Linked DNA regions of Homo sapiens: all the other regions are linked to region 5. The links come from fine-mapping of genetic effects on plasma protein levels. A gene starts in region 5. Each other region holds a variant in brackets. All regions are shown on one strand. Distances are from middle to middle.

The links. PIP is the posterior inclusion probability: the model's chance that the variant is causal. Protein levels are from antibody-based Olink assays in UK Biobank. Linkage for the fine-mapping came from a reference panel and not from the study's own genotypes, which makes the PIPs less certain.
Region 1: its variant is fine-mapped to the plasma level of the NAAA protein (UK Biobank, PIP above 0.99).
Region 2: its variant is fine-mapped to the plasma level of the NAAA protein (UK Biobank, PIP 0.97).
Region 3: its variant is fine-mapped to the plasma level of the NAAA protein (UK Biobank, PIP above 0.99).
Region 4: its variant is fine-mapped to the plasma level of the NAAA protein (UK Biobank, PIP above 0.99).
Region 6: its variant is fine-mapped to the plasma level of the NAAA protein (UK Biobank, PIP above 0.99).

Annotation. Positions count from the first base shown.
Region 1 is chr4:75,600,481-75,605,305 of GRCh38, reverse strand. CDKL2 (cyclin dependent kinase like 2) reads left to right here. Exons shown (of 14, transcript NM_001330724.2): 6 at 1,350-1,489. Among named protein-coding and RNA genes, the nearest start is that of CDKL2, 28 kb to the left of the region's middle. The variant C/G (reference allele first, on the strand shown) is at 3,841.
Region 2 is chr4:75,627,444-75,632,444 of GRCh38, reverse strand. It overlaps CDKL2 (cyclin dependent kinase like 2), which reads left to right and starts at 1,917. Exons shown (of 14, transcript NM_001330724.2): 1 at 1,917-2,403. The variant C/T (reference allele first, on the strand shown) is at 2,877.
Region 3 is chr4:75,593,838-75,598,838 of GRCh38, reverse strand. CDKL2 (cyclin dependent kinase like 2) reads left to right here. Exons shown (of 14, transcript NM_001330724.2): 8 at 627-762; 9 at 1,603-1,904; 10 at 2,499-2,592. Among named protein-coding and RNA genes, the nearest start is that of CDKL2, 34 kb to the left of the region's middle. The variant G/A (reference allele first, on the strand shown) is at 2,498.
Region 4 is chr4:75,662,825-75,667,825 of GRCh38, reverse strand. The region is part of intron 1 of G3BP2 (G3BP stress granule assembly factor 2); the gene reads left to right. Among named protein-coding and RNA genes, the nearest start is that of G3BP2, 8.1 kb to the left of the region's middle. The variant TTGTTTG/G (reference allele first, on the strand shown) is at 2,170.
Region 5 is chr4:75,938,129-75,943,129 of GRCh38, reverse strand. It overlaps NAAA (N-acylethanolamine acid amidase), which reads left to right and starts at 2,117. Exons shown (of 11, transcript NM_014435.4): 1 at 2,117-2,386; 2 at 2,965-3,129. The coding sequence starts at 2,181. RefSeq lists silencers at 1,895-2,364, 2,765-2,834.
Region 6 is chr4:75,581,406-75,586,406 of GRCh38, reverse strand. CDKL2 (cyclin dependent kinase like 2) reads left to right here. Exons shown (of 14, transcript NM_001330724.2): 13 at 4,509-4,597. The coding sequence ends at 4,574. It also overlaps the pseudogene COX6CP9. Among named protein-coding and RNA genes, the nearest start is that of ODAPH, 28 kb to the right of the region's middle. The variant T/C (reference allele first, on the strand shown) is at 2,480.

The DNA of each region.
Region 1 (4,825 bases), 340 kb after region 5:
TCTCGGCTCACTGCAACCTCTGCCTCCTGGGTTCAAGCGATTCTCCTGCCTCAGCCTCCCGAGTAGCTGGGATTACAGGCATGTGCCACCATGCCCAGCTAATTTCGTATTTTTAGTAGAGATGGCGTTTCTCCATGTTGGTCAGTCTGGACTCGAACTCCTGACTTCAGGTGATCTGCCCACCTTGGCCTCCCAAAGTGCTAGGATTACAGGCGTGAGCCACCGCGCCCAGCCACGTGTGTGTTTTAATTTATTTTTTCCTTCAGTCTGGCATTGGTCTATCTGATGCATGTTCTTTTTTATTTTTTGAGACGGAGTCTCGTTCTGTCACCAGGCTGGGGTGCAGTGGCAATCTTGGCTCACTGCAAACTCCGACTCCCAGGTTCAAGCGATTCTCCTGCCTCGGCCTCCCAAAATGCTGGGATTGCAGGCGTGAGCCACTGTGGCCCGCCCTGGTGCATGTTCTTAATCACGCTCACATCCCCTTTCCCCTCAAGAGAGAGGAAAAGAGCAGAGGTTGTGCATTTCTCTGTACTTTTACATACCGTTAATTACATGTAGAGAGGATGCAATGATCATTTATTATTCTTGAGTCAGTAAGCATTTGGTGTAATGTGACTACTGTCCTTACTTTCACATTCAAGAGGAGAGACACAGAGATTTCCAAGGTTGATTTAATCTTGGCACAGATTTGGACTTCTGCTATTAGTGCTTTTGACAGAATTTCAAAGCTGGACTATCAAAATCTTACGTTTGTTGAAATATCAACTTCATGTTTGAAGATGGAGCTTAGAAATGGAAATAATGGGAAAATACTTGGGGGTAATTTAACTATTTGATTTGAAGTTTTCAGATTAGAAATTAAATAAGCAGTACAATAGTTTCTTACAGTGGAATTTTCAGATATATTCTACATTCAACTAGATATTAAAGTTGAGAAAAAAGATTAAAGTGCTCAAATCTGACTTTAAGATAAGCACAAAATCAGTTGACCAAATATTAAATTCTTAAAGGGGAGAACTGATTTATCTAGATTAGATCCTGTCCATATGACTATTAATATATTTGTTGTTTTATTCAGCACTTTATGCTTTCTAGTTAGAAACGAAGTGCTGGTACTTATATCTGGAAAGTTATAAAATATTTTTTACCTGTCCTTTTCCTATGCTCCTTAAGACTGCCATATACCACCACAGTAACGGCATTGTCTTTGGTCAATTTTGCATGTTGAGAGAGCCCCAAACTCCATAAGCTGTGTTCCACTATTTCCTCTACTTCACACCACCTGTCTCTTCACCATTTCTATCATGTTGTATAATAACAGAGATATGTGCTGTTTTCACTTCCAGGTAATCTAATTCCAAGGCATCAGGAGCTTTTTAATAAAAATCCTGTGTTTGCTGGAGTAAGGTTGCCTGAAATCAAGGAAAGAGAACCTCTTGAAAGACGCTATCCTAAGCTCTCTGAAGTGGTGATAGATTTAGCAAAGGTAATCATACTTATTGTTTACACTTTATGACAGGGAATTTATGCACTATCAAGACCTTTTTTTTTTTTTTTTACTTGTCTAGTTGATCTTTTTTTTTTTTTTTTGATGGAGTCTTGCTCTGTCACACAGGCTGGAGTGCTGTGGCATGATCTCGGCTCACTGCAAGCTTCACCATTCTTCCGCCTCAACCTCTCTAGTAGCTGGGACTACAGGCGCTCGCCACCATGCCTGGCTAATTTTTTGTATTTTTAGTAGAAACGGGGTTTCACTGTGTTAGCCAGGATGGTCTCAATCTCCTGACCTCGTGATCCGCCCGCCTCGGCCTCCCAAAGTGCTGGGATTATAGGTGTGAGCCACCAGCCCTGGCCTCTAGTTGATCTTTTAGGTCAACAATTTCCTCTAATAATTTTAATTTTTGTACATTTAGAAACAATTTAAATAATTTGATGGGGGTAACTTCAGAGAAAAAGGACTGAAAATTTTACCTGTTTTAACACTCATTAAGAAACCATTTATTGGCCGGGCGCGGTGGCTCACGCCTGTAATCCCAGCACTTTGGGAGGCCGAGGCGGGTGGATCATGAGGTCAGGAGATCGAGACCATCCTGGCTAACAAGGTGAAACCCCGTCTCTACTAAAAAATACAAAAAATTAGCCGGGCGCGGTGGCGGGCGCCTGTAGTCCCAGCTACTGGGGAGGCTGAGGCAGGAGAATGGCGTGAACCCGGGAAGCGGAGCTTGCAGTGAGCCGAGATTGTGCCACTGCAGTCCGCAGTCCGGCCTGGGCGACAGAGCGAGACTCCGTCTCAAAAAAAAAAAAAAAAAAAAAAAGAAACCATTTATTGTTATCTAGCATTTTGTAAATGTGAAAACATCCTCACTGAAAAACACATTAAAAACATAAAAACACTGTATGATTTTTACGTTTAACATTTAAAATACACGCCTTGTTTAAATGGAAAAGAAAATAAAAGTAGGATAAGAAAATAAAAAGGGTCTGGGCATGGTGGCTCACACCTGTAATCCCAGCACTTTGGGAGGCTAAGGCCGGTGGATCACTTGAAGTCAGGAGTTGGAGACCAGCCTGGCCAACATGGCAAAACCCCATCTCTATTAGAAATACAAAAAAATTAGCTGGGCATGGTGGTGCATGTCTGTAATCCCAGCTACTCGGGATGCTGAGACAGGAGAATCACTTGAACCCAGGAGACAGAGGTTACAGTGAGCTGAGATCGCACCACTGCACTCCATCCTGGGTGACAGAGTGAAACTCTCTCTTTAAATAAATAAATAAATAAAGGATAGAGAAGTAGGAAAATATTAAAATGTAGGGCATAGGATGGCCGGGCATGGTGGCTCATGCCTGTAATCCCAGCAGTTTGGGCGGCCGAGGCACGTGGATCATGAGGTCAGGAGTTCAAGACCATCCTGGCCAAGATGGTGAAACCCCATCTCTACTAAAAATACAAAAATTAGCTGGGCGTGGTGGCACGTGCCTGTAACCCCCGCTACTCGGGAAGGTGAGGCAGAGAATTGCTTGAACCTGGGAGGTGGAGGTTTCAGTGAGCTGAGATTACGCCACTGCACTCCAGCCTGGGCAACAGAGCGAGACTCCATGTCAAAAAAAACAAACAAACAACAACAACAAAAAAAAAACAAAATGTAGGGCATAGGATCATGATCTGTATGATATTGTCAAAGGGGTTTTTGCTTAGCCACTGTATTGGCTGCAGCCAGTTTACAAATGGCCAATACTTTTTTGTTGTATTTGATTAAGGAAGATGTTAGGTTTTCATTCTATCAAGTGAGAATCAACTCTAAAATTTGACCTTTTTGGGGAATTTTTAGCTCAAAAAGTTCTCATCAGTTAAGATTGTTTAAATATTGATAAGATAGGTACCTCTAAAACACTAGGCTATAAGATTTACCCAATTTTTTTGTTTTTTAATTCTTTAACTCATGACGTTTAATAAGCTTATAACTAATTAAACAAGTTCTTAGAATAATACATTTCCAGTTTTTTACATAATCTTCTAACAGATGCAAATATTTTTAATTGGTACAAGCTTTGTGATCTATCTGTAAGGAGATATAAAGGGAATAAAGGTAAAACTATTGTCCAACTTGTGTACCTTAATCATACCTTAAGGAATCATATAAAACTTTTAAAACATTTTATTATGGAAAATTTCAAACGGAAAAGAAAATAGAAAGAATAGTTGTTTAACAAACCTTCATGTACTTATCATCTAGTTTCCACAATTATCAACCTTTTGATAATCTTGTTTAATTTATCTACACTCTTTAACTTTTTTTGGAGTATTTTGAAGCAAATCCCAGATGTATTATTTTA[C/G]TTATAAGTAGCACAGTTATGCAGAGAAATTTTCTTGTTCATTTAAAGCTACTTATTGAGTCCCTTCTATTTTTACTGGCATGTTAGGGGTTTTAATGAATCAGAACAAGACTTTGCAATAAAATAAAATAAAATAAAATAATCTTTGTAAAGCATCTAGCATAGTGATAAGCACAGGATAAATCCTTTCCTTTCCATTCTGTAATAGCCTTAAGTTTTAAAAATTCCAAATAATTTCTTACTATCATAAAATATCTAATTGATGTTTAAAGTTTCATTAATTTTCACAAAATTTATTTCATTTCATAGTTTGAATTAGGATCTAAATGAAGACTATAGATTGCAATTGGTCGATATATTTTTAAAACTTTATTTATAAGCTTCTCTTCATCTCTTTCTTTTTTGTTTAAATCTTGCAATTTATTTGTTGAAGAAACTAAGTTGTTTGTCCTTAGAATTTTCTACATAATGCAGTATACATGTTCTTCTGTGTCCTGTATTTCTTATAAACTCACAGTAGAGCTAGAGCTCGATCAGAATCAGGTTGATTTTTTGGCAAAACTACTTCATAGGAGGTTTGTGTATTTCCATATAGAGACACTGAATGTTTGGTGGTCTTTTTGTGATACTAGCAACCACTGACGGTCATTGTCTAGATTTGTGCTTTATTCTTTATCCTTGATTATTGATGTGTAAAATTCATTGGCGGGCAAGTGTGGTGGCTTGCGCTGGTAATCCCAGCATTTTGGGAAGCTGAGGAGGGTGGATAGCTTGAGCTCAGAGTTCGAGACCAGCCTGGGCAACATGGCGAAACGCTGTCTCTACAAAAAATACAAAAATTAGCTGGGTGTGGTGGTGTGCACCTGTGGTCCCAGCTACTCAGGAGACTGAGATGGAAGGATCACCTGAGCCTAGAGAGGTCAAGGCTGCGGTTAAGTAGTGATCACACCACTGCACTCTAGCCTGGGCAACAGAGTGAGACCCT
Region 2 (5,001 bases), 310 kb after region 5:
CTGCACTCCAGCCTGGGCAACAGAGTGAGACTCCGCCTCAGAAGAAAAGAAAGAAAAAATAGTAACACAATCCTGTTTCTACATAATACCTTCTCTATTAACAATCCTGTAGATGGCCAGAATGTGTAAGTCTTTAATAACCTCTGTCCTCTACAACTGGCTTTCAAACTCAGTTCTTACTGAAATTGTTTTTTTTTGGTTTGTTTGTTTTCTTTTTTTCAGTCTCCCAAGTAGCTGGGAGTACAGGCGTTCACAACCATGCCCAGCTAATTTTTGTATTGTTAGTAGAGACAGGGTTTCACCATGTTGGCCTGGCTGGTATCAAACTCCTGACCTCAGGTGATCTGCCCGCCTTGGCCTCCCAAAGTGCTAGGATTACAGGCATGAGCCACCGCATCTGGCTGAAATTGTTTCCTAAAGCATCACTTGTTCGCCAAATCCAGTATTTTCAGTCTTTATCCTTTGGTTCCCTGTGAGATATAAATAGATTATTGAAGCTTCTAGGCCTCTTGCATGAAGGGGCCTTAAAATGTTATACGGTTGAATATGATTATAAAGTTGCAAAAGTAAAATAGTTTTGCGCTCTTGTTCTTAAGCTTCAGGCCCAACAAAACTGAATCTACCCCCATATAAAAGAAGTTCATCAGATTCTCTTATAGCCTATAGAGGTACCAAATGGGACAGGGCTTCTCGCAACTTGGACACAGCTAAGGACAGAGCTAATTGCTACACTAAGAGTCACATCTTGAATTGACCAAATAATTCTATTCTTTCCATAACTAGGCCTCAGGTCTGGTTCTCAATATTACAGGTTCAGGAACTAGATTTTAAGCAGTCTGACCAAGGTAATTAACCACTGGGAGATTAATGCAAACTAACCAAACTCACAAAAGACTATAAAAAGAATGTCTATTTCTTAATGTACAAGAAGGAATCAATACCTTAACATTAATGATTAATACCTTAATATTGACTAGGGTATATGGTAGACATTTGTCTATCCAGGACACTCTATTCCCTAAATCAAAGTAGTTTCGAGACCAAAATGATCATGAACATTTAGTTATCATGATTGAAAGTGTTATTTTACTGGCCTTATGGCCTCCTCGCTGCCTCAGATTCTTTGAAAATGGGGTAAGCTCTGTTCCTGTGTGATTTAAGCCTGTGCATGATTCTGACCTACCAGTCTTGCTCAGTCGTGGATTGAGCTGCATTTTTGCATTTAAGGCAAGTTTTATCGCAAGCCCTAACTCCACCCCATTTGGCTGCCATACGCGGGTGTTGTGCGTGTCCTCCAGATCCCCAGCCATCCCAGCGCTTTCCCATTCCACTCATGCCCTCTCTTCCCCTTCCTCCATCTCAGTGTTTTCCCTCACTTTCAATGGCCAGACTGGCCTTCCCAAGGTCCCTCCTAACGTCAGGTCTGTCATCACCTACCTTCTTCCACCTTGCCTCGCCTACTAATCATCACCTCCTAAACTGTCACCGTTATCTCCTACCTGGCTCACACTGGCCCCACCGCCCAGAACAGAAAGGAAGCATGGAATCCCGGTCAGGCCGCGCCTACGCGACTCAGGGCGCCCGGCGCCCGCCCCTGCCCCAGCGGCGATGCTATGAGGGAAACCGTATCGCATTTTGCATAGTCTTCGCAGTCCTACATAACCGCCACCTTTACCCTTCGCGTGGGCATCACAATCGCCTCCTCCCGCTGGGGAAGGCAGAAAGGCGCCTCCTGACGAGAACCAAGGCGTGTGGGGACGCAGGGCCTCTGCGTGTCAGGGAGCAGAACCTGGGCCGAGCCCTAGGTGAAGGGGCGGGGTGGTTGGCCCTGAGCCAATCATGGCTCGTGACGACTCGGCTCGGCCAATCAGAAGAAGGGAGGCCTGGCGCTCTCGGGGCGGGTGAGAAACCGCCCCCCCTTGCAGCTCCGCGGCCAACGCCTTCGCCCAGGGGTAGTTGGAGCGGTGCAGGTTCCCAGGCTCCAGGTACTGGGCGCCTTACGAGCTGGGAGGTGGTGCCTCTCACCCAGCTAATTGCTCTCTAGCCCTTGGCCTTCACAGGTGTTGGTGCCTGCCGTGAACGCATTCTGACCTGGGCCGTATCTGTCTCCCAAGACTTTGTGCCTATGGTTGGGGACAGAGTGAGGTCGTTGCCTTGACGACGACAGCATGCGGCCCGTGGTCCTCCTAAGTGTGAGCTTGCGGCGGACCGAGGCCCACCTGCCTCCCTGCCTGCTTCGCCCTGGACTCGTGACTGCGTCCGCAGAAGAAATCACAACAGCGCTGGAATTGCTAGTTTGCTAGGCAGCATCTTTTGGACCTGCGAACCATATGCATTTCACCTCAAATTTGTTTCCAAGTTGAAAACCTTTGGGTCTTTCTATGCGAACGGATTGAAGAAACGGTAAGTATAGTACGTTTTAAAGCTTCTATTATCTCGTTCTTTGATCTATAAAAGATTTCAATCTTTTTTTTTTTTTTTTTTTTTTTTTTTTTTTTTTTTTTTTGAGACGGAGTTTCACTCTTGTTGCCCAGGCTGGAGTGCAATGGCATGGTCTCGGCTCACCGCAACCTCTGCCTCCTGGGTTCAAGCGATTATCCTGCCTCAGCCTCCCAAGTAGCTGGGATTACAGGCATCACCACCACGCCCGGCTAAGTTTGTATTTTTAGTAGAGACAGGGTTTCTCCATGTTGGTTAGGCTGGTCTCGAACTCGCAACCTCAGGTGATCCGCCCGCCTCGGCCTCCCAAAGTGTTGGGATTACAGGCGTGAGCCACCGCTCCCGGCCCTTTAATCTGTCTTAAACAAAATAAAAAATTAGCATTCTCCAAATATTTTTATCAAAATTGTTGCTTTTAGAACCATCCAGAAATAACA[C/T]CTTGCCCATTGGCCAGGTTTCTTTTTCGTTTGTATTACCTTTCCGTTCAAGAGTAGAAGGCATGAGAAGTTATAGTTTATGAGTAACTGTTTCAGGAAACAGGAGGCTTTGTAGGCTGTGATACTTTTAAAGTATTTGTGGACAGTGTCACTTGAAAAAGCAGGTGTGTTCAATGTGGTGTGTCCAGATATGCAATTGGTTGGGAGAATAAACTTGAAGCAGTCAACTTGCATTAATGTTAGCTTGGGATATGCTTCAGAACACCTCAGACATGCTTAAAGTCATTTTTTTTGGTTCACTTTGTGCTTTCAAATATTGAGGACATCAATTACAAAATGTTTTAAAATAATCCAGGTTATAGATTCAAGCTATTTTTGTCATTGGTATGATAAACCTAAAGCCTAGTGCTTAATAAAACATACTCTCTTAATGGAAGAGAAAAAAATTAAGAAGGGATAGAATTATATGGAGATTTTTTTTTTCAAATACAAACAGTTTATTAAAAAATAGTTAATGGAAGTGGAATAGAAGGTAAAATGTCAAATGCATGGAAAGTTAGTGTCTGGGACACTGCTCTGTAAAAAGTTTGTAGTAGAATCTACTATGAAAACTGGTAGTAAAATAATAATTTAAGTCGATGTTCATTGGTATTGTTTTCATTTCCCACCCCTCAAGATCAATCTTCTGGTTCTCCACATATAGCTACATTAAAAATATATATATTATAAAATCTCAAACTATTATATGTCAAGTGTGGAAAACGTATTGTATACATTGGATTAGCATAGTTTGCTAGAACAAAGAGAATATTTGTTTTGTCTTTGCATCACTGTTCCAATAGAGAAATAGGAAAAACAGTTCACGATCTGAGTAAATTTTAGATTGCCGTAAGTATACAATTAATACAACAGGCAAGAATTATTTCTTGTTAAAATCTATCTGTATTTGGACTGAAATAATTTTTTATCTATTATTACTGAAATAATAGATAGTTAAAATCTATCTGTATTTGGACTGAAATAATTTTTTTCTGTACGAAAGCATTTTGTCCAATGATTGCTGGACCTTCGTCAATCATTGGTAAAACAAGAAAGATTCTCTTAGGATTGCCTTTATTCAGAAAATGTCATATAATATGAGTAAAAAATTTCAAGGCCGGGCGCGGTGGCTCACGCCTGTAATCCCAGAACTTTCGGAGGCCGAGGCGGGCAGATCACGAGGTCAGGAGATCGATACAATCCTGGCTAACACGGTGAAACCCCGTCTCTACTAAAAATACAAAAAGTTAGCTGGGCGTGGTGGCAGGCGCCTGTAGTCCCAGCTACTCGAGAGGTTGAGGCAGGAGAATGGCGTGGACCCGGGAGGCGGAGTTTGCAGTGAGCCAAGATCGCGCCACTGCACTCCAGCCTGGGCGACAGAGCAAGACTCCGTCTCAAAAAAAAAAAAAAAATTTCAAACACAAATTCAAATTATACTTATAGTGAGTAATCATTAACAGGGTTTTTGAAATACTTTTACTGTACTTGGTACTACTAATATTTAATTTAATTTAATAATTACATTAAATTTAATAAAATTTAATTTAATTTTAAAAATCTGCTTATATACCGATGTCATTACTCTTATTTTCTAAGTTCAATATAGTAACAGTAACATGGCGAAACCCCGTCTCTACTAAAAGTACAAAAATTAGCTGGGCGTGGTAGCGGTGCCTGTAACCCTAGCTACTGGGGAGGCAGAAACAGGGAATCGCTTGAACCTGGGAGGCAGAGGTTGCAGTGAGCCGAGATCGCGCCAGTGCACGAGACTCCGTTTCAAAAAAAAAAAAAAAAAAAAGAAAAAAAAAGTAAAGAAAAATATTTTATGAAAGATGCTCTGTGTTAATTTGTTATGTGATCAAATATTTTTTCCAATTAAGTGGAAGGTGCATAAGTATTTCCAACATTGATCTAAATCCAGTGTAACAAAAAAGTTGATCTTTATTAAAACTAAATTCAGGCCGGGCGCTCTGGCTCACGCCTGCAATCCCAGCACTTTGGGAGGCCAAGGTGGGTGGATCACTTGAGGTCAGGAGTTTGAGATCAGCCTGGGCAACATGGCAAAACCCCATCTCTATGAAAATAC
Region 3 (5,001 bases), 340 kb after region 5:
TTTCTGTCAGTCTTTCTTTCAAGTAAAAATATCTAGTTTAGTTTGTATCACAAATAATTATGCAAGCATTTTTCTTAAGACAACCATAGTGTTTCGGTTTGTAGCAGAGGTGCTTTACGTATATTCTCATTTTGTCACACAGACCATAAAAAAAGGATGCGTTTAAGAGTTTGGCTTTAATGAAGTCAATACCTTTTTGCTGATTCATCAGAGACATTCTTAAGCAAGACTGCCTTTTTTTTTTTTAAAAAAAAAAAGCAACTGAGAATGTGTGGTTATCAAGAAAGTAATGACTGCTAGTACATTTTGGTTTTGCTGCTTTTCTTCTTGGTAAGGTGTCAGCAGTTTTATCCACCACTGCTTTCATGTTAACCTGGTGAGAAAGACAAACATCTTTATGTTAAAATAATAGCATTGACTTTGTGAACCTTCTGAATGTTCTTAGGGATCCCCAAAGATCTACACACCACCCTTTCCAAACTGCTGATCTAGGCCAGGATTTTTCTCATTTTTAATAACATAGACTAGTTTAACATTCAATTTTTAAAAAATAAATATCTTGAAAGTCAATTTTTTTGTAGGTTTATCCATGTCTTACAATTTTATTTTATTATATTTTTATGTAGGTTTTCCCAAGAACTACAGTTAAAAGTACAGAAAGATGCCAGAAATGTTTCTTTATCTAAAAAATCCCAAAACAGAAAGAAGGAAAAAGAAAAAGATGATTCCTTAGTTGAAGAAAGAAAAACACTTGTGGTACAGGTAAATGTTCATGTTTCACATTTTAGATTTAATATACTTATTTTTTTAAATTTTTTGAGAAAAAATATGATTTTGAAAAAAGTTTTCTGAGCAGTGAGCAAATTGTTAACTTTTAGTTTAGTTGTAAAAATGTATCTTCTCAGTAGATATTACCTGTTTAGAAAACTTAACATATCATGTTTTGAGTACCTGTTATGTGCCAGACTGTGCAACAGTGCTTAAATCACATTCATCCAAGAACATCTAGATATGTGTTTTCATGAACACATATACACACAGACACATGGAACAAACAACCCTCACCCCACTTATCTTTCTTAAAGGATATGAGTGAAAAATATTGTCTGTAGAAATTTATATGAAGTAAAAATTTGAAAAGTGAGATTTGGATACTTAACTTAGGTTTGCTTTTCCTGGTGAACTACCCAGGATCTGTTCTTGATAAGGTAATTCAAATCCACCACCAATCCACTTATATCAAGTACACCAAAAGAAGAAAGAGTTATCAGTTTTGTGTTCCATGACTCTGAATATGTAAGAACAAAAGTGGAATTCTTGATTCCTCTTCCATGAGTTTTTCCACTGATGTGTGTGTATGTGTGTGTGTGTGTGTCTGAGTGAGCTGTGTGAATTGCATTTCCATTCTTTTTGTATTTTCCCAATAACTATCTGAATAAGAATCTGGCTTTAATTTTAATCCCCTAGGAAGAATAAAGAAAACAGTTTCAAAAAGGTGATACTTATGATATTCTGCTCTAGTTGACAAGTACTTTATAAGAAGAGGTAAATTTTCATTCTCTTCAGATCATTAACCTTATTAATATTTTTGTTAATGATCAGGATACCAATGCTGATCCCAAAATTAAGGATTATAAACTATTTAAAATAAAAGGCTCAAAAATTGATGGAGAAAAAGCTGAAAAAGGCAATAGAGCTTCAAATGCCAGCTGTCTCCATGACAGTAGGACAAGCCACAACAAAATAGTGCCTTCAACAAGCCTCAAAGACTGCAGCAATGTCAGCGTGGACCACACAAGGAATCCAAGCGTGGCAATTCCCCCACTTACACACAATCTTTCTGCAGTTGCTCCCAGCATTAATTCTGGAATGGGGACTGAGACTATACCAATTCAGGGTTACAGGTATGAATTAGTAAAATAAGATCAAAAAAGTGTTTAAGGACATATTTGCAAATTGCAAGGGTTTGTCAATTCATCCACATTGTTTTTATTCTCAGAATTCTGGATGCTATTCATTCTTGTCAGGTAGCTGTTTCAAAAGACTTTTTGGCTGTGTGATGAAGATTATTAGCATTTGATCAAAACAATTCACCAAAGTCCTGAGAAAGTAGGGTTTTATTGCTTAAGGTGAAGAGAATCTACAGCTATATAGTCTAATAATGTGAAAGCAGGTTGTCATACTAAAAGAGATAATTTTTGAGTGGCTGCTGCTGCATGGTGTGACTGTGAGCCTATAGTAGTATAAGGAAGCTCCATTTGGGAATTTTGCTGAAAGGAGGGTAATGTATTTGGTAGGAGTTGGGGGCTGCTGGGAGGCATGAGGGTAGTGTTAAAGAATAGAATGTTTCACCAGATTTATGTGCATTGTATATTTGAGAATAGACATTACACTCTGGTTAAACTGCTTGTTAGTTGGTGCTGTGTCATTTAGTTTTGTGCTTGAAAAAATAATTATTGCTGGTTCTAACTTAAAAACATTTTTTTTTGTCGTTACA[G/A]AGTGGATGAGAAAACTAAGAAGTGTTCTATTCCATTTGTTAAACCGAACAGACATTCCCCATCAGGCATTTATAACATTAATGTGACCACATTAGTAAGTAAGCAGTTCTCAGTAGTAGAAGAGCAAACACCAGTCAGCTCTAGACTTTTATTAAAATTAAATATGATAGTGAAGTATTGAGAATTTTGTTTGGATACACATAAAGTGAAACCTTAATTGTGCATATATTATCCCAACCCATCATAGTCATAAACGTGAAATTCTGAAAGTTTAAGTTTTATGAGTCTAAAAACTCCTTCCTTCCTTTCTTCCTTCCTTCCTTCCTTCCTTCCTTCCTTCCTTCCTTCCTTCCTTCCTTCCTTCTTTCCTTCCTTCCTTCCTTCCTCTCTTTCTTTTTCTTTTCTTTTTTTTTTCATGGAGTCTTGCTCTGTTGCCCAGGCTACAGTGCAGTGGTGAGATCTTGGCTCACTGTAACCTCCACCTCCTGGGTTCAAGTGATTCTCCTGCCTCAGCCTCCTGAGTAGCTGGGATTACAGGTGCCTGCCACCGCACCCAGCTAATTTTTTATTTTTAGTAGAGACAGGGTTTCACCATCTTGGCCAGGCTGGTCTTGAACTCCTGACCTCGTGATCCACCTGCCTTGGCCTCCCAAAGTGCTGGGATTACAGGTGTGAGCCATCTGTGCCTGGCTTGTTTTATTTTTTCTTTAGTAACATAGTAAATTTTCTCAACTTGATGATTGCTGGTCAGTTCTTTTTTAGAGTAGATGAAAAGATAAATTGTCTTATCTCACCCACACCAGATTTTTGGTGGCTGTATTCTATTGGCCAGGGACAGTAGCACACATCTATAATCCCAGCACTTTGGGAGGCCGAGGTGGGAGGATAGTTTGAGCCCAGGAGTTTGAGACAAGCTTGAGCAACATAGCAAGATCCTGTCTCTACAAAAAATTTTTTAAAAAGTTAGCTGGGTATGGTGGCACATGACTGTAGTCCTAGCTACTTGGGAGGCTAAGATGGGTGGGTTGCTTGAGCCTGGAAAGTTGAGGCTACAGTGGTAAGCTGTGGCTGTAATTGTGCCCCAGCACCTCAGCCTGGGTGACAGACCAAGACCCTGTCTCAAAAAAAAAAAAAAAAGAAGAAAGAAACGATTCTATTTATTTATATAATAAATATTTATCAATCGTTATGTGTGAGACACTGGAAATAAATAAGTCAATCTTTCTTTTCAAGGACTTCATGATCTAGAGGATCAGCAAATTAAAGCATAGTATCATATTGTATTTAGACAGAGCACAGGAAGGACCATTATTATTCTCAGCATGGCCTCCAGAATGTTTCTCTTTTGAAGTTAGGTGAAACCCTCATCATTCTTCTGCTAAACTTCCTCCATTAGCTTCTTATCACTGAGGAAAGGCCAAAGTCCTTATAGGGTCTATAAGTGCCTGCAGGATTGACTCCAACCAACCCTCTATCCCATCTCCACCTACTCTTTCTCCATCAATCTGTTCTACCACACTGATTTCCTTGTTATTCCTGGAACATAGTCAGACATACTCCCACCTTTGGGCTTTTGCACTTGCTATTTCTTTTGCTTTGGAACATTCTTCCCCCAGATAACCCAATGGATTTGCTTTTTCTCTTCTTAGCTCACATGAAACCTTACTGTGAAGTCTTGTAACTCATTATGCCTCCCTTTATGTTCGATGCCTTCTCCTTGCTTATTTTTTTTTCCATTGCATTTACCTGACATCGTCTATATACTCTTATTTATATATTGTCTGTCTCCCCCAGCTAGAACGTAAGATTCCAAGGCAGAGATTTGTGCTTTTGTTTTCTTCACTGTACTTTTCCTTCCTATGCAAGTAGAAAAAATAATTTTTTTTTTTTTTCGAGTCAGAATCTCGCTCTGTCGCCCAGGCTGGAGTGCAGTGGCATGATCTCGGCTCACTGCAACCTCCGCCTCCCAGATTTGAGCGATTCTCCTGCCTCAACCTCCCGAGTAGCTGGGATTACAGGCACCTGCCACCACACCCAGCTAATTTTTGTATTTTTAGTAGAGGCGGGGTTTCTCCATGTCGGCCAGGCTGGTTTCGAACTCCTGACCTCAGGTGATCTGCCCACCTTGGCCTCCCAAAATGCTGGGATTACAGGCGTGAGCCACCAGGGCTGGCCTAAAATTTAAAAATGAGTTCAAACTACCAGATTAATATATTCAAAGAGTGAAAATAAAACACAAAATAAATATTTATAATAATACATTTATTCACACCTTAGAATGGGGGTATAAAACATGGGAGAGAGGTATTGTCCTTTAACCTACAAGTTGAAGAAAGTCTAGGCTTATCTCTGCTTGCATTAATTTTCATTAAGGAAAGACTCCATACTGAATGAATGAATGCTTTTCACAACAAAGGGAGGTATGGATGTATTCCCAAAGGAATATTCCTTGTGTGTGTGTGTTTGTGTGTGTGTGAGACAAATTTCCCTCTCTATTTCTCTC
Region 4 (5,001 bases), 280 kb after region 5:
CCTTTGCCTCTGAGTTCAAGCAATTCTGCTGCCTTAGCCTCCTGAGTAGCTGGGACTATAGGCGCGTACCACCAGGCCTGGCTAATTTTTTGTATTTTTAGTAGAGACGGGCTTTCACTGTGTTAGCCAGGATGGTCTCGATCTCCTGACCTTGTGATCCTCCTGCCATTGCCTCCCAAAGTGCTGGGAAGTAGGCATGAGCCACTGCGCCTGGCCTTGGATAATGTTTTCATTTGACAAGTAAAAGACGGATTTGTTCATGAGAGAGCTTTGACTGTGTATAGAGCTAATGTATCAGATAAAATTTTACACTGTGCATTCCTGTGTGAGATTCTTCACATTTTCAGGTGTCATTGGAAGAAGTGGAGTGTGATATATTGTATTTAACTTTTTCTAAAAAGGTTGTTAGGTGAGGCTAACAACCACCTTATTGAAGATGGTAGTTATCTTTGAAGGTGCTAATCTAAGAACTTTCTAAAGATTTCTTTTTGTGTATAAGTATCCTTTAATCTTGGCTATCTTTTTTTTTTTTTTTTTAAACAGTGTCTCACTCCTGTTACCCAGGTTTGAGTGCGGTGGTGCCATCTTGGCTCGCTGCAGCCTTGACTTCCCGGGCTCAGGCATTCCTCCCACCTCAGCTTCCCGAGTAGCTGGAGCTACGCTTGCACACTACCACGCCCCGCTAATTTTTTGTATTTTTTAGTAGAGACGGGGTTTTGCCATGTTGCCTGGGCTGGTCTCAAACACCTGAGCTCAAGCGATTCACCCACTTTGGCCTCCCAAAATATTGGGATTACAGGTGTGAGCCACTGCACCAGGCCTTCTTGGCTATCTTTGTAGAACTGTATAGTCTTGTAGGCTTGACCGGGGATTTCTTCTCAATTTGTAAACTAGGAAATCGAGATCCAGTAAGGTCATGAGTTTTTCATGGCCATGGATAAGATAGTTGAAACCTTTTACTCCCATATTCAGAATTTTGTTTCGTTTTGTTAACTTTTTTTAAGAAATGGAAGGTCCCAGATCTAGAAATGGATTACCTGTAAGATGATTTGCTATGAATAATAAAAATGGCACAATTCTTTCTTCTTGTAATCACTTTTATTCTGAAAGTGTAATTTGGCTTTTTTCCTTTTTCTCAACCTTCTTACGTACACTGCATGAATTATAAATACGAACTTTATATTACTTACTCAATTTTCATAGTCTTATTTCCTGCAATACCCAAACCACGTTGTTTGATGGTTGATCTCTAGTAGTCATTTTCTGGTTGATTTCTATCAATTATATTTTGGCTCTCTAAATTCTGAGTCACTTCAAATCGGAGTTATGGTTAAAGAAGTAACTGATGTAATTAGTTGAAACACTGTTCTCTCAGTAAATCTTGATTTTGTTTTACCATTCCTTTGGGAGCCTCCTCTGCACCTTAAAAGCTCAGCTTTCTATATAACCTGTTATATGCCTGTTTAGATTTTACCAGATTAGCATTGCCTTACTTATTTACCATTTGAAGTTAACTTTTCAAGTTACTGCCTTCCAATAGTTCTAAGTATTAATTTATTGAGTATTGATTAATCAAATATTACTTCTACTGCCCTTCCCTGTCTCTCTGTTCTAAATTGATGGTATGTTGGCCATTATACTTCAGTGACCATGTAGATAGTGGGCAATTTGAAGCTTTTTTTGAACCTTGTTACAACAAATCTTTAGAGCATTTTGACCTGTGATATTATATATGTATTATGTACCATTTTATTTTGGTTTGAGAAACAAATATGTAAGTGACAAAAATGATAGATCAGTATGTACTCTATGAATATGATGGGAAATTTGGGATAAATGACAACAGTGTTCCTGTAGAAAATCTGGAAATCCAGAGAGAAGAAAACAATTCCCAAACCCGGAAATTCCTAATAGTATTTCTGTCACTATCAATTTAAAGAAAACTATTTTGTGTATAGTTATTTTGTTCAGAGAGTAATGTAGTATTTTCCCATGTGTTAGTATTATTTTACCATCAGTTTTTATGGTGTTAAAATACATATAATTTCCATGTTTTAGTTATCTTGTTAAATTTTACCAGGTAAGTCTACTGTTCTTTACCCACCCTCATTATTCAAAATAAAAATGTTAGTTGCTTAGCTGTGTGTGTGTGTGTGTGTGTGTGTGTGT[TTGTTTG/G]TGTGTTTGTGTGTGTGTGTGTGTTTGTGTGTTTGTGACTACAGGTGTGCACCACCATGTCTGGCTAATTTTAGATGGGGTTTTGCCTTGTTGCCCAGGCTGGTCTTCAGCTCCTAAGCTCAAGCAGTCTGCCCACTTCGACGTCCCAAAGTGCTGGGATTACAGGCGTGAGCCACAGCCCAGTGCTTTGTTACTTTAAATGTAGCATATGTGAGTCCTTTTTGCACTAGGGTTGTTACCCTTATTGGGAGTTTTAAGTTTTCTGGAAAATCAATGACACCTGAAATGGCAGTATTTGGATCTGCTCTTTGTGAATTAACTATTTTTGAAAGCAAGTGAGGCATTATAAAAAATTTTAAACAGATTTGGGGATTTTTGTAAATCAAGTTTGAGAGTTTAAGAAGGACAGTTAGAGGAGGGATAGTTTGTTGGAAAGGAAGAAACAAGGAACCTAAAAACATAATGTAGAAGTTGAATTGTGAGTCACTAGAATTATGTAAAGCTACACTCTATCTGTAAGCTCTACTATAGTTGGTATTTGATTTTTATTAAAAACAGCATCACAATTTTAATGACCTATGCAGGGCTGTCTCTGAAATTGTTTTAGTTATTTAAAGTAAACACACATGGAAATTGACTTTTTATTTTTAATTTTTTGTATAGAGATGGGGTCTCTCTGTTGGCCAGGCTGGTCTTGAACTCCTGGCCTCAAGCTTTCCTGCCACCTCCACCTCCCAAAGTGCTGGGATTACAGGCATGATCCACTGTGCCAGCCTGCAGTGTTTTTTTGTCTGTTTGTTTTGAGACAGAGTCTTACTCAGTTGCCCAGGCTGGAGTGCAGTGGTGTGATCGCGGCTCACTGCAACCTTTGTCCCCCAGGTTAAAGTGATTTTTTGTGCCTCAGTCTCCTGAGTAGCTGAGATTACAGGTGTGTGCCATCAGCTCTGCTAATTATTTGTATTTTTAGTAGAGATGGGGTTTCACCATCTTGGTCAGGCTGGTCTCGAACTCCTGATCTCAAATGATCCTCCCAGCTCAACCTGAAGTTTAAGCAGGACTTTATTTATTTATTGAGATGGAGCCTCACTCTGTTGTTGCCCAGGCTGCAGTGCAGAGGCATGATCTTGGCCCACTACAAACTCTGCCTCCTGGGATCAAGCGATTCTCCTGCCTCAGCTTCCCAAGTAGCTGGGACTACAGGCGCCAGCCACCACGCCTGGCAAATTTTTGTATTTTACTAGAGAAGGGGTTTTACCATTTTGGCCAGGCTGGTCTCGAACTCCTGACCTCAGGCGATCTGCCCACCTTGGCCTCCTGAAGTGCTGGGATTACAGGCGTCAGCCACCGCACCTGGCTAAGCAGGAATTTCAACTGCATCCTGATTTACCCAGTAGATACATGCTTAGGAATTATGATTTTTTTTTTTTAGTACTTTTAAGTTTAATAGGTCTTTTTAAAATAAAACAGGTGGCTGGGCACGGTGGCTCACGCCTGTAATCCCAGCACTTTGGGAGGCTGAGGCAGGTGGATCACGAGGTCAGGAGTTCAAGACCAGTCTGGCTAACATGGTGAAACCCCGTCTCTACTAATAATACAAAAATTAGCCAGGTGTGGTGACACGTGCCTGTAGTCCCAGCTACTCGGGAGGCTGAGGCAAGAGAATTGCTCTGCCGGGAGGCAGAGGTTGCAGTGAGCCAAGATCGTACCACTGGACTCCAGCCTGGGCAACAGAGCAAGACTCCATCTCAAAAATAAAATAGGTTATATTTCATATTTTTATTTTTTATTTTTTTGAGACGAGTCTCGCTCTGTCGCCCAGGCTGGAGTGCACTGGCGCGATCTTGGTTCACTGCAACCTCCGCCTCCCGGGTTCAAGCAATTCTCTGCCTCAGCCTCCGGAGTGGCTGGGATTACAGGCACCCACCACCACACCTGGCTAATTTTTTTATTTTTAGTAGAGATGGGGTTTCACCATCTTGGCCAGGCTGGTCTTGAACTCCTGCCCTTGTGATCCACCCGCCTTGCCTCCCAAAGTGCTGGGATTACAGGTGTGAGCCACCGTACCTGGCCCTGGGGATTATATTCCTACAGTAAATGATAAGTTTTGTTTGTGGCTCACACCTGAAGTGAGAGGATCACTTGAGGCCAGGAGTTCGAGACCAGTCAGGGCATTGTAGCCAGACCTCGTCTCTGCTAAAAATAAAAATTAAAAAATTTAAAAAAATTAGCCAGGTGCATGCTTATAGTCCCAGCCACTCAGGAGATTTAGCGGGGAGGATCGCTTGAGCCTGAGCCTGAGCCTGGCAGTTGAGGCTGCAGTGAGCCATGATTGCACCACTAAACTCCAGCCTAGGTGACAGAGCGAGACCCTGTCTCAGAAGACAAAAATAGGAAATTGTATTTATTTCATGTTAGTTGTTCTTGTTGGTTTTAACTTTGAGGCACATTATCATAGCACCTAACCCATTCTGTTAAGTTTCCAGTTTGCTTGTTTATATTTCTTGACAGACTATAAACTCCTTGAGGGCTAGAGACTTATCTTGTTCACTAGAGTATTTCATTTATTATAAACAGTATCTCATGTAGTTAGATGCTTAATTAGTGGAAAGAAAGAGAGACATAATATCAAAGGTAAAAAATGATTCTCTCTAAGTACTGAAGTTATAGCTGGTGATTAATCATTGTTACCATTTTGAAAATGGTGAAATTAATTCCCAGAAGGAAAGAGAATACAAAAACACAAGTCATGGTGCTTTGCCATGAGTGTTATCTCTGAGTCTTAACTTGGGCCCTCTGTCTTGCTTCCTAGGATAAAACCACTGGAAT
Region 5 (5,001 bases):
AATTTGGGGGTGGCTTAGCTGAGGCAGGAAGGTCCACTTCCACCATGGCTCACTCAGATGACTTGACAAGAAGCCTCAGTTCCTCTCTGGCTCTTGGTAGAAGCTCAGTTCCTCAACAAAGGGACTTTCTTTTTTCTTTTTTTTCAATTTTATTTACTTCTTTTTTGGAGACAGGGTCTCACTTTGTCATTTAGGCTGGAGTACAGTGGCGTGATCATAGTTCACTGCAGCCTCAAATTCCTGGGCTCAAGTAATCCTCCTACCTCAGCCTACCAAGTAGCTGGGACTAAAGATACATGCCCCCATGCCCGGCTAATTTATTTTTATTTGTTTGTAGAGATGGGGTCTCACTGTTGCCCAGGCTGGTCTCCAATTCCTGGGCTCAAGCAGTCCTCCTGCCTGACTCTCCAAGTGCTGAGATTTGTGTCCAGCCACAAAGGGACATTTTCATAGGGCTTCCTCAGGACATGACAATGGGCTTCCTATAGTGAGCAATTCAAGAGAGCAAGGAGAAACCCACAGTGTCTTTTGTGACCTAGTCTTGGAAGTCAACCACCAGCAATTCTGATTCTATTCATTAAACCAAGTGACCTCAGATGATCAGCCAGCCAACGTGCTGGGATGACAGGCGTGAACCACCATGTCTGGCAAGAAATTTTGTAATTCCTTTAAGTGTTATCCTTAAAAACAAGTGATTGATTATAAAAGTTGTATTTCTTCATCCTAAAATTGGTAAAAAATAAAAAAAAAATGTGTTTAGTTTCTACTATGCATTTAGTTTTTTTTTTTTTTTTTTTTTTTTTTTTTTTTTTTTTTTTTTTTTTTGAGACAAAGTTTTGCTCTTGTCACTCAGGCTAGAGTGCATTGGCACAATCTCGGCTCACTGCAACCTCTGCCTCCCAGGTTCAAGAGGTTCTCCTGTTCAGCCTCCCAAGTAGCTGGGATTACACCACCACGCCCGGCTAATTTTTGTATTTTTAGTAGAGACAGGGTTTCACCATGTTGGCCAGGCTGGTCTCAAACTTCTGACCTCAGGTGATCCACCCGCCTCAGCCCCCCAAACTGCTGGGATTACAAGCCTAAGCCACCATGCCCGGCCCTTTCATTTAGTTTCTACTATTCATGTACACATGTACCCTGTTTTACCCACAGACAACTGTGCTAACCGTTAAGAATGTCCCAGCCTTACTAAGATTTTCCTAAGTTTGTCTCCCAGACATTGGGAACTCAAAGGTGAAGAAACTTAGGTGTGAAGGTGGATTGTGGATTCAGACCTCCTTACTTGGAGGCCAGTGCAGAGACACACCAGCAGAGTAACCTCGGGTACATGGCTTCACCTCTCCAAGCCTCACACTCCTCATCAGTAAAGCGAGGATTAGTGGAACCTACCTGTTGGCTTGTTTTGATGATTAAATGAGATAATGTCCGCGAAAAATATTTAGCAGATAAATGTTCACTAAATTTTGAGCTTTAAAAAAATGTTTTACCAGCCAGGCGCGGTGGCTCACGCCTGTAATCCCAGCACTTTGGGAGGCTGAGGCCGGTGGATCACCTTAGGTCAGGAATTCGAGACTAGTCTGGCCAACATGGTGAAACCCTGTCCCTACCAAAAATACAAAAATTAGCCAGGTATGGTGGTGGACGCCTGTAATCCCAGCTACTTGAGAGGCTGAGGCAGGAGAATCGCTTGAACCCAGGAGGCGGAGTTGGCAGTGAGCGGATATCTCGCCGCCGCACTCCAGCCTGGGCAATAGAGTGAGACTACATCTCAAACAAACAAACAAACAAGCAAACAAAGTTTAACTGAAAAGTCTTTCCTGACACCTTTTCGCTACTGAAAATCTTACAGCCCCTCCCGGCCGCAGCCTACACTCCTTCGGCCCAAGCAGGTGCGCTGGAACCGGCAGTTGGTGAGAAGCCGGCTGCCGGCAGCCCCAACCCTTAGCGGCCCCGCGGTCAGGGACCTCCAGGCCCGATGGAGAGTCGGGGCGGGCTAGTGGATGCGCGGCGGGGACGGGAGGTGTCGCCGCTCCGGCTTGCCGGTGACAGGGGCGGGCGGGTCGTGCGCGGGCCCCACCTCCAGCGATCGCAGCCCAGCCCCAGCTCCTCCTCCTCCACGGCTTACCCGGGCTCCGACAGCGGCTGCAGGTCTCCAAGTTGCGGCCGCTGGAGCCCGAGCCATGCGGACCGCGGACCGGGAGGCGCGCCCGGGGCTTCCGTCCCTGCTGCTGCTGCTGCTGGCCGGGGCCGGGCTGTCAGCCGCCTCGCCCCCAGCAGCGCCGCGCTTCAACGTGAGCCTGGACTCGGTCCCCGAGCTGCGCTGGCTGCCCGTGCTGCGGCACTACGACTTGGACTTGGTGCGCGCCGCGATGGCGCAAGTCATCGGGTGAGCTGGGGCCCTGGACGGGGTCTGCGGGGACACCGGCCCTGCGGGTCGGAGTCAAACGCGCGCTGCTCAGAGTGCTTTAAACGGGGACGCTTTACTCCCCGCCACCCTTGGAGAACTGGTTTTGGCTGCCGCCCTGAGCAGCGTCCGGGTTGGGGAGAATCCAGCGCGGCAGGTTCGGCTTTCAAGTTCGGTGTCACCCGTGGCACGCCAGTCCTTGAGCCATTCCGGGTCAGCGTGGCGCGCGAGTTGTCGCCCGGGCTGCATAGCTACCAAGGAGGGGCAACCCGCGCCTTCCTTGCGGGCCTCGCGGGCCTTCCAAGCTTGCCCCTTTGGGACCAGCCTCACTCGCCCTCCCCATTCGGAGTTTTCTTACCCGCCGCCTTCCCCCCGCCCCCTTCCCCCCACTCCCGGGAGGCTGCAGATTGAGTGACGCCGCGCCTGGGCGGTCCACTGACTGGGGAGCAGTGGCCCTGAGACCTCACGCCCTAAGGATGTAGCCCCGCTCGCAGTGCACACGCAGTCGCACGCCGCCGACCTCTGAGCGGGTCAGACGCCCTTGTGCTTTTTGTTTCTAGGGACAGAGTCCCCAAGTGGGTGCACGTGTTAATCGGAAAAGTGGTCCTGGAGCTGGAGCGCTTCCTGCCCCAGCCCTTCACCGGCGAGATCCGCGGCATGTGTGACTTCATGAACCTCAGCCTGGCGGACTGCCTTCTGGTCAACCTGGCCTACGAGTCCTCCGTGTGAGTGCCCCAAGCCCGCGCGGAGTAACGCGGGGCTTGCGGGGGCCCCCGACACAGACTAGCGGGAGGAGACATATTTTCCGTGTGATAAAAACAGGGCGGTGCCTGCTTGCCTAGAAACCTCCAGCGCTTCCTCTTTGCCTCTCTGGGTAAATCTGAGCTGCACATCGTAGGCTTCGAGAGGGAAAGCAGATTCTCCGATTCAACACTAAACTTTCCCTCTACGTGTAGCCCCGGGTTTTCTCTTCCCCAATCCAGGTAGCGTACTTTTAAAATTCTGCTCAAAGGCCGGGCGCGTTGGCTCACACCTGTAATCCCAGCACTTTGGGAGGCCAAGGTGGGCAGATCACGAGGTTAGGAGTTCGAGATCAGCCTGGCCAACATAGTGAAACCCCGTCTCTACGAAAAACACAAAAAATTAGCCAGGCGTGGTGGTGGGCGCCTGTAATCCCAGCTACTTAGGAGGTTGAGGCAGGAGAATCACTTGAACCCGGGAGGCGGAGGTTGCAGCGAGCCGCGATCGCGCCACTGCACACCAGCCCTGGCGACAGTGCGAGACTCTGTCTCAAAAAAAAAAAAAAAAAAATTCTGCTCAAAACGTACTTTTCCAGGAAGTTTTTGAAACTAAGCCTCCTCTCATCTGGACCCTTTAGTTAACTCAGTGGCCTTCCAGCTCTATACTGGCAGTGGCTCATCTCTGCCCTTATTTGTCGCCCTGCATTTATCCTTTCATGTGTGTCGTGGCTGAAGTGTCTGTGTCCACCAGGGCTGGGGCGACAGGGAACACTGCTCTAATAGGGCCAGCCAGTGTTTGGACCGGGAAGTGGGCATGATAAAATGTGCATCCAGGCTGGGCGCGGTGGCTCACGCCTGTAATCCCAGCACTTTGGGAGGCCGAGGCGGGTGAATCACCTGAGGTCAGGAGTTCAAGACCAGCCTGGCCAACATGGTGAAACCCCGTCTCTACTAATAATACAAAAAAATTACCAGGGCCTGGTGGCGGGCACCTGTGAATCCCAGCTACTTGGGAGGCCGAGGCAGGAGAATCACTTGAACCCAGGAGGCAGAGGTTGCAGTGAGCCAAGATGGCACCATTGCACTCTGCAGCCTGGGCGACAAAGCGAGATTCCATATCAAAGAAAAAAAGTGCACCCAGAAGTGAAAGCAACATGGAGTGTGTGGTTGATCCCAGGCAAAGTGCAGGGGACCACTAAAGGTTTATGGGCTCAGTAATAGGCCCTGGAATAAAGAGAGGTTTTGACTTGGTTTCTTCCTTCAATACTTATTGTTTTGCCAGCAGACTAGCTTCATCTCGTAACCTCTTGTACATACTTAGAGCTTCTTGCTGCCTAAAGATGATGGGGGTAGAAAAGATCTTGGAATAATGAAACTTTACTGGCCCAGGCATTTTCCCAGAACACCTAGGCAGAGTAAGCTAAAAAGCACTGGGACTGCCTTCCTCTTCAGGAAATGCTTTCAGGCACAGAAAAGACACAGGCCTGCTAAATAACATGCTTTTCAGTTGAACTAAGTTATTATAATTTTACCACCTCCCTCTCCTACCTCCAACTTTTTCCTATTTTTAACTTACAGCTTTCTCAATGAAAAATCACGAATCATTTTTACCCTCATCTGTTGGAGTCACCATATTCAAACACATTAAAGCAAAAGTTCTAGTAAAAACATTCTAACTTTTGGATTTGATACTAAGGTATTTATTGAATTGCCTAATAGCACCATTCAATTCACTAGCATTAACAAAGGAAATGCTTTCTTCTCATGTTGGAAGTAAGCCTTCTTGAATTAGAATAATACTAGCTACCCTTTATTGAGCCTACTGGGTGCCAGGCACTTCATGAACACAGTCCCGTG
Region 6 (5,001 bases), 360 kb after region 5:
AAAATACAAAAAAATTAGCTGGGCGTGGTGGCAGGCGCCTGTAGTCCCAGCTACTCGGGAGGCTGAGGCAGGAGATTGATGTGAACCTGGGAGGCAGAGCTTGCAGTGAGCCAAGATGGTGCCACTGCACTCCAGCCTGGGTGACAGATCAAGACTCCATCTTAAAAAAAAAAAAAAAAGAAAGGTTAGTCCAAACGTTTTCTAATTTCCCTTGTAATTTCTTCTCTCACCTATGAATTATTTAGAAATGTTGTTTAATAGCCAGGTATTTGAGGTTTCCCTAGATATCTTATTACTGATTAATTTGTAATTTAATTCCATTGTAGTCAGAGAATACACTCAGTGTGATCTTGATTTTTTTAGATTCAATGAGACATGTTTTATGGTCTACGGTCTATCTTGGTGATTGACTTCATTCCCTTGAAAAAATGTATATTCTTTGTTGTTGGATTAATTGTTCTATAAATGTGAAATTAGATCAAGGTGGTTAATAGTACAGTATTCTTCAGGTCATCTATGCTCTTAATTTTTTTTGTTTAGGTCTATCAGTTCTTGAAAGAGTGCTGTTAAAATCTTTTATTATGTTGTAGAATTGCCTATTTCTCTCTTATATCTGTTTGTTTTAATTTAATTTAATTAATTAATTTATTTCAAGACAGAGTCTCGCTTTGTTGCCCACGCTGGTCTTGACCTCCTGAACTCAAGTGATCCACCCACATCGGCCTCCCAAAGTGCTGGGATTACAGGCATGAGCCACCATACCTGGCCTGTATCTATTTATTTTTGCTTCATGTATTTTATTATTATTTTTTTAGAAATGGGGTCTCACTCTGTTGCCCAGGCTGGAGTGCAGCGGCATGATCATAGCTCACTGCAACCTTGAATTCCTAGGATCAAGCGATCTTCCCCCATCAACCTCCTGAGTAACTAAGACTACAGGCACAGCTCACCACACCCAGCTAATTTTTTCTTTTTTGTTTTGAGAGATGGGGTCTTGCTCTGATGTTGTGGCTGGCCTTGCTGTGTTGCTCAAACTCCTGACCCAAACTCCTGACCTCCTCCTGAGCCTCTTGAGTAGCTGGGATTACAGGAGTGAGCCACCATGCCTGGCTGCTTTATGTATTTTAAATCTCTATTATTAGGTATTTGCACATAATTGTCTTGTCTTTCTGATACATTGTACCTTTTCTCATTATGAAATGCCTCTCTTTATCTCTGTAGTGGTCTGTGCTTTGAAGTCTATTTTATCTGATATTAAAATAGCCATTCCAAACTTCTTATACGTATGTTTGCATAGTAAATCTTGTTGATTTCATTTACTTTCACCCTATCTGTTTTTTATATTTATATTTAAAGTGTTTCTTTCACAGACAGCATATAAATAGGATTTTTCCTTTGTATACATTCTGTCAGTCTTTGCCTTTTAATTGGAATGTGTATTCGTTTATTATTTCTGCTACCTTAGAGATGTGGTAGTCCCCCCTTATCTATAGTTTTGCTTTCTGCACTTTCAGTTACCTATGGTCAACTGTGGTCTGAAAATGTTAGTGGAAAGTTCCAGAAATAAACAGTTCTTAAGTTTTAAATTGCACACCATTTTGAATAGCCTGATGAAATCTTGAGCTGTCTGGCTCTGTTCTGCTCAGGACATGAATTGTCCCATTGTCCCGTGTATCCATGTATGCTACCTACCCTTTTATTGCTTAGTAGCTGTCTAGGCTTTCAGATTAAAAAAAACACAATACTGTATATTTAGGGCTTGGTACTATCTGAGGTTTCAGGCATCCGCTGGGGGCCTTGGAACATATCCCTCATGGATCGGGGGGACTACTTAACACACTAAATTAATATCTATTTATTTTCTCACAGTTTCTGGGTCAGGAGCTAGGGCACAGCTGCTTCTCTGAATGAGTCTCACAGGTGGAAATCAAGGTGTCTGCAGGGCTGCATTATTTTCTGGAGGCATTGGGGAGAAACCATTTCCAGGTTCACTTGGGTTGTTGGGCTAATTTAGTTCCATATGGTTGTAGGGCAGAAGTCCCTATTTCCTTGCTGGCTAACAGCTGGGGGTTGTTCTCACCTTCTAGATGCCACTCACATTCCTTGGCTCATGGCCCACTTCCTCTGCCTTCAAAACCAGCAACAGTGGTCAAATCTCTCTTACACTTGAATCTCTCTGACCACTCCTTCTGCCACATCTCTGACTTACTCTGATGCTAAGAGCTCACATGATTACACTCGGCCCACGAAGATAATCTATCCTAATTAGTAACATTTAACAGCTAATTAGTAACAATTAACAGCTAATTAGTAACATTTATTCCATGCACAAAGTCCCTTCATATCGGTACTGAAATTAGTTTGATTAACTAGCTAGGGACAGGAATCTTAAGGGCATAGCTTTACAATCCTGCTGATCACAGAATGTTTAGACCATTAACATTTAATGTGATAATTGATATTTTTGAATCTAGTCCCA[T/C]CTTTTTATTATTTGTTTTCTGTTTGCTCCTCTGTTTTTCCTTTCCAGTTTTCTTTTGTTTTTGAATAGTTTCAGTATTTTTTCGGCAATATCTTTTTATATTTTTTTTAGTGATTGCTCGAGGAATTACAATATACATCACTAATTTTTCGTAGTCTACATTGTACCCCTTGAAATAAAAAGTACGAATTGCCCATCCATTTCTCCATCATCCAGGAAAGACGTTGGTTTTGAGGTTGACATACCTATAAAGGACAGTAACTACCATGGCTTCCACCGCTTTGGCAAAACCTCAGATGTGTGGTCTTCTGGCCAAATGTCTGCAATTTCATATTGTTGGAGCCTTTATTGTATCCCTGGGGGTTGCAGCTGTCTGTAAGATTGCTGTGGCTGAACCAAGAAAGAAGACATATGCAGATTTCTACAGAAATTATGATTCCGTGAAAGATTTGGAGGAGATGGGGAAGGCTGGTATCTTTCAGAATACAAAGTGATTTTGGAATGCAAAGGATTTCTTTGGGTTGAATTACCTAGAAGTTTGTCACTTACCTGTGTTCCTGAGCTATGAAACATGAATATGTGGTCTAAGAAATAGTTTCTCTTGATAAATAATTAACAACAAAAAAAGTAGGAACATTGCTAACATATTCCCTTCTTCCCAGTTTGCACTTTAAGTTAGAACTTCATATGTACTACATTTACATATCTCCAGAACCCCAATACGTTATATGTTTTGTTTTAAACAGTCATAAATAGTTTAAACAATTTATGAGAAAAAGTTGTCTTTTATATTTACCTAGCTCTTTACCATTTCTGTCGGTCTCTCTTCTTCCCTAGATTTTCCTCTGGTATTATTTTCCTTCAGCCTGAAAATCTTCTTGTTAGCATTTCTTGCAGAGCAGGTCTGACGGTGACAAATGTTCTTAGTTTTTCTTCATTTGAGAATGACTTTATTTTACTTTAATTCTTGAAGTATATTTTATTGGATATGGAATTTGGGTTGACATATTTTTGTTTTTGTTTTTCCTCCCAGCACTATAAAGATGGGATTCTTCTGTCTTCTGATCTCTGTAATTTCTGGTGGGAAATTCTCAGGCATTTGAATTGTTTCCCTATATGTAATGTTTCATTTTCCTCTAGCTGCTTTCAAGATTTAATTTTTATCTTTTCTTTTCATTAGCTTAAATATGATGTATCTAGACATAGTTTTCTTTGAGTCTGTCCTGTTTGGGGTTTGCCAGCCTTCTTGAATCTTTAAACTTATATATTTTACCAGATTTGGGGAGTTGTTGGTCATGTTTTTTGAAATTTTTTTTTCTGCCATAATCTCTCACCTCTCCTTCTGAGAGTCTAATGATATGTATGGTAGACCATTTAGTATTTTCTCATAGGTTCCCGAGACTCTGTTCACTTTTTCTTAATCATTTTTCTTTCTGTTCTTCAGATTGGGCCACTTCTATTCATCTATCCTCAAGTTCTCTGACTTTTTACTTTATCATCTTCATTCTGCTATTAAGTCCATCCAGTGAGATTTTAAAATTTCAGATACTGTGCTTTTTAGTCCCAAAATATACATTTGGTTCCCTTTTATAGCATCTGTTTCTCTGCTAAGAATTCCTATCCCTTCATTCATTTCAAGTATGTTTTCCTTTACTTCATGTAGCAGAGTTATAAGGGCTGCTTCAAAGTCTTTATATGATGGTTCCAACAGGTTTCTGTTTTTGTATTTTTGTAATAAGTAGAAGAGATGGGCTGTAGTGGGCTTACACTGCCTTGGCAGATCAGAAGTATCTTTTAACATATGCATAAACTAAGATCAAAGAATAACATCCACTCAGCAGTCATGTTTGGGACTAAAGAAAAGGAAAAGAACAATGTCCCCTTACTTCATTCTTTTCCATGTAGGCAACTTGAGCTATGAATAGTTAATTATAAACATCTAATATTTGAACAAATAGAATTGAAATTTTGGGGAAGTGGAACTTTTGCAATTACTGAGAACCTATGATGCTCTATTATTAATTTATAGGTATCAGGACCTCCCCTGTCAGATGATTCAGGGGCTGATTTGCCTCAAATGGAACACCAGCACTGAGAACCATTTTGGTTCTGAACTGGGTAGGTGTGATTTCCCATACTTAAAGCTGTGCAGCCTTTCACAGGTACTATTTTGTGGCTTGCTGAATACCAATTTTTCAGCTGAAACCGTCTCCAGTGATTGATTCCATGAGAACTTCTGATAGAGAAAGAGTTGTGCCACTTAGAAAACCAGAAGTAGTATTTATCTCTGAGATGAAATCCCTTTTCGCAGAGCGTACATCTCTTGCTCTTAAACTAATCTCCTGCATTTTATTGGATATAGTAATGTGAATTTAGGGTGACAAGTGCTCAAGAAAGATATATACCTATCTCCCTTATCAGTCATTTGCCCTGTGGGCCTGTAAAGCAAGATTGATTGATTATAATGATGCCTCGGTTAATGTTCTGAAAGATGCATCCTTAGGTGATTTCACTGTTATGCT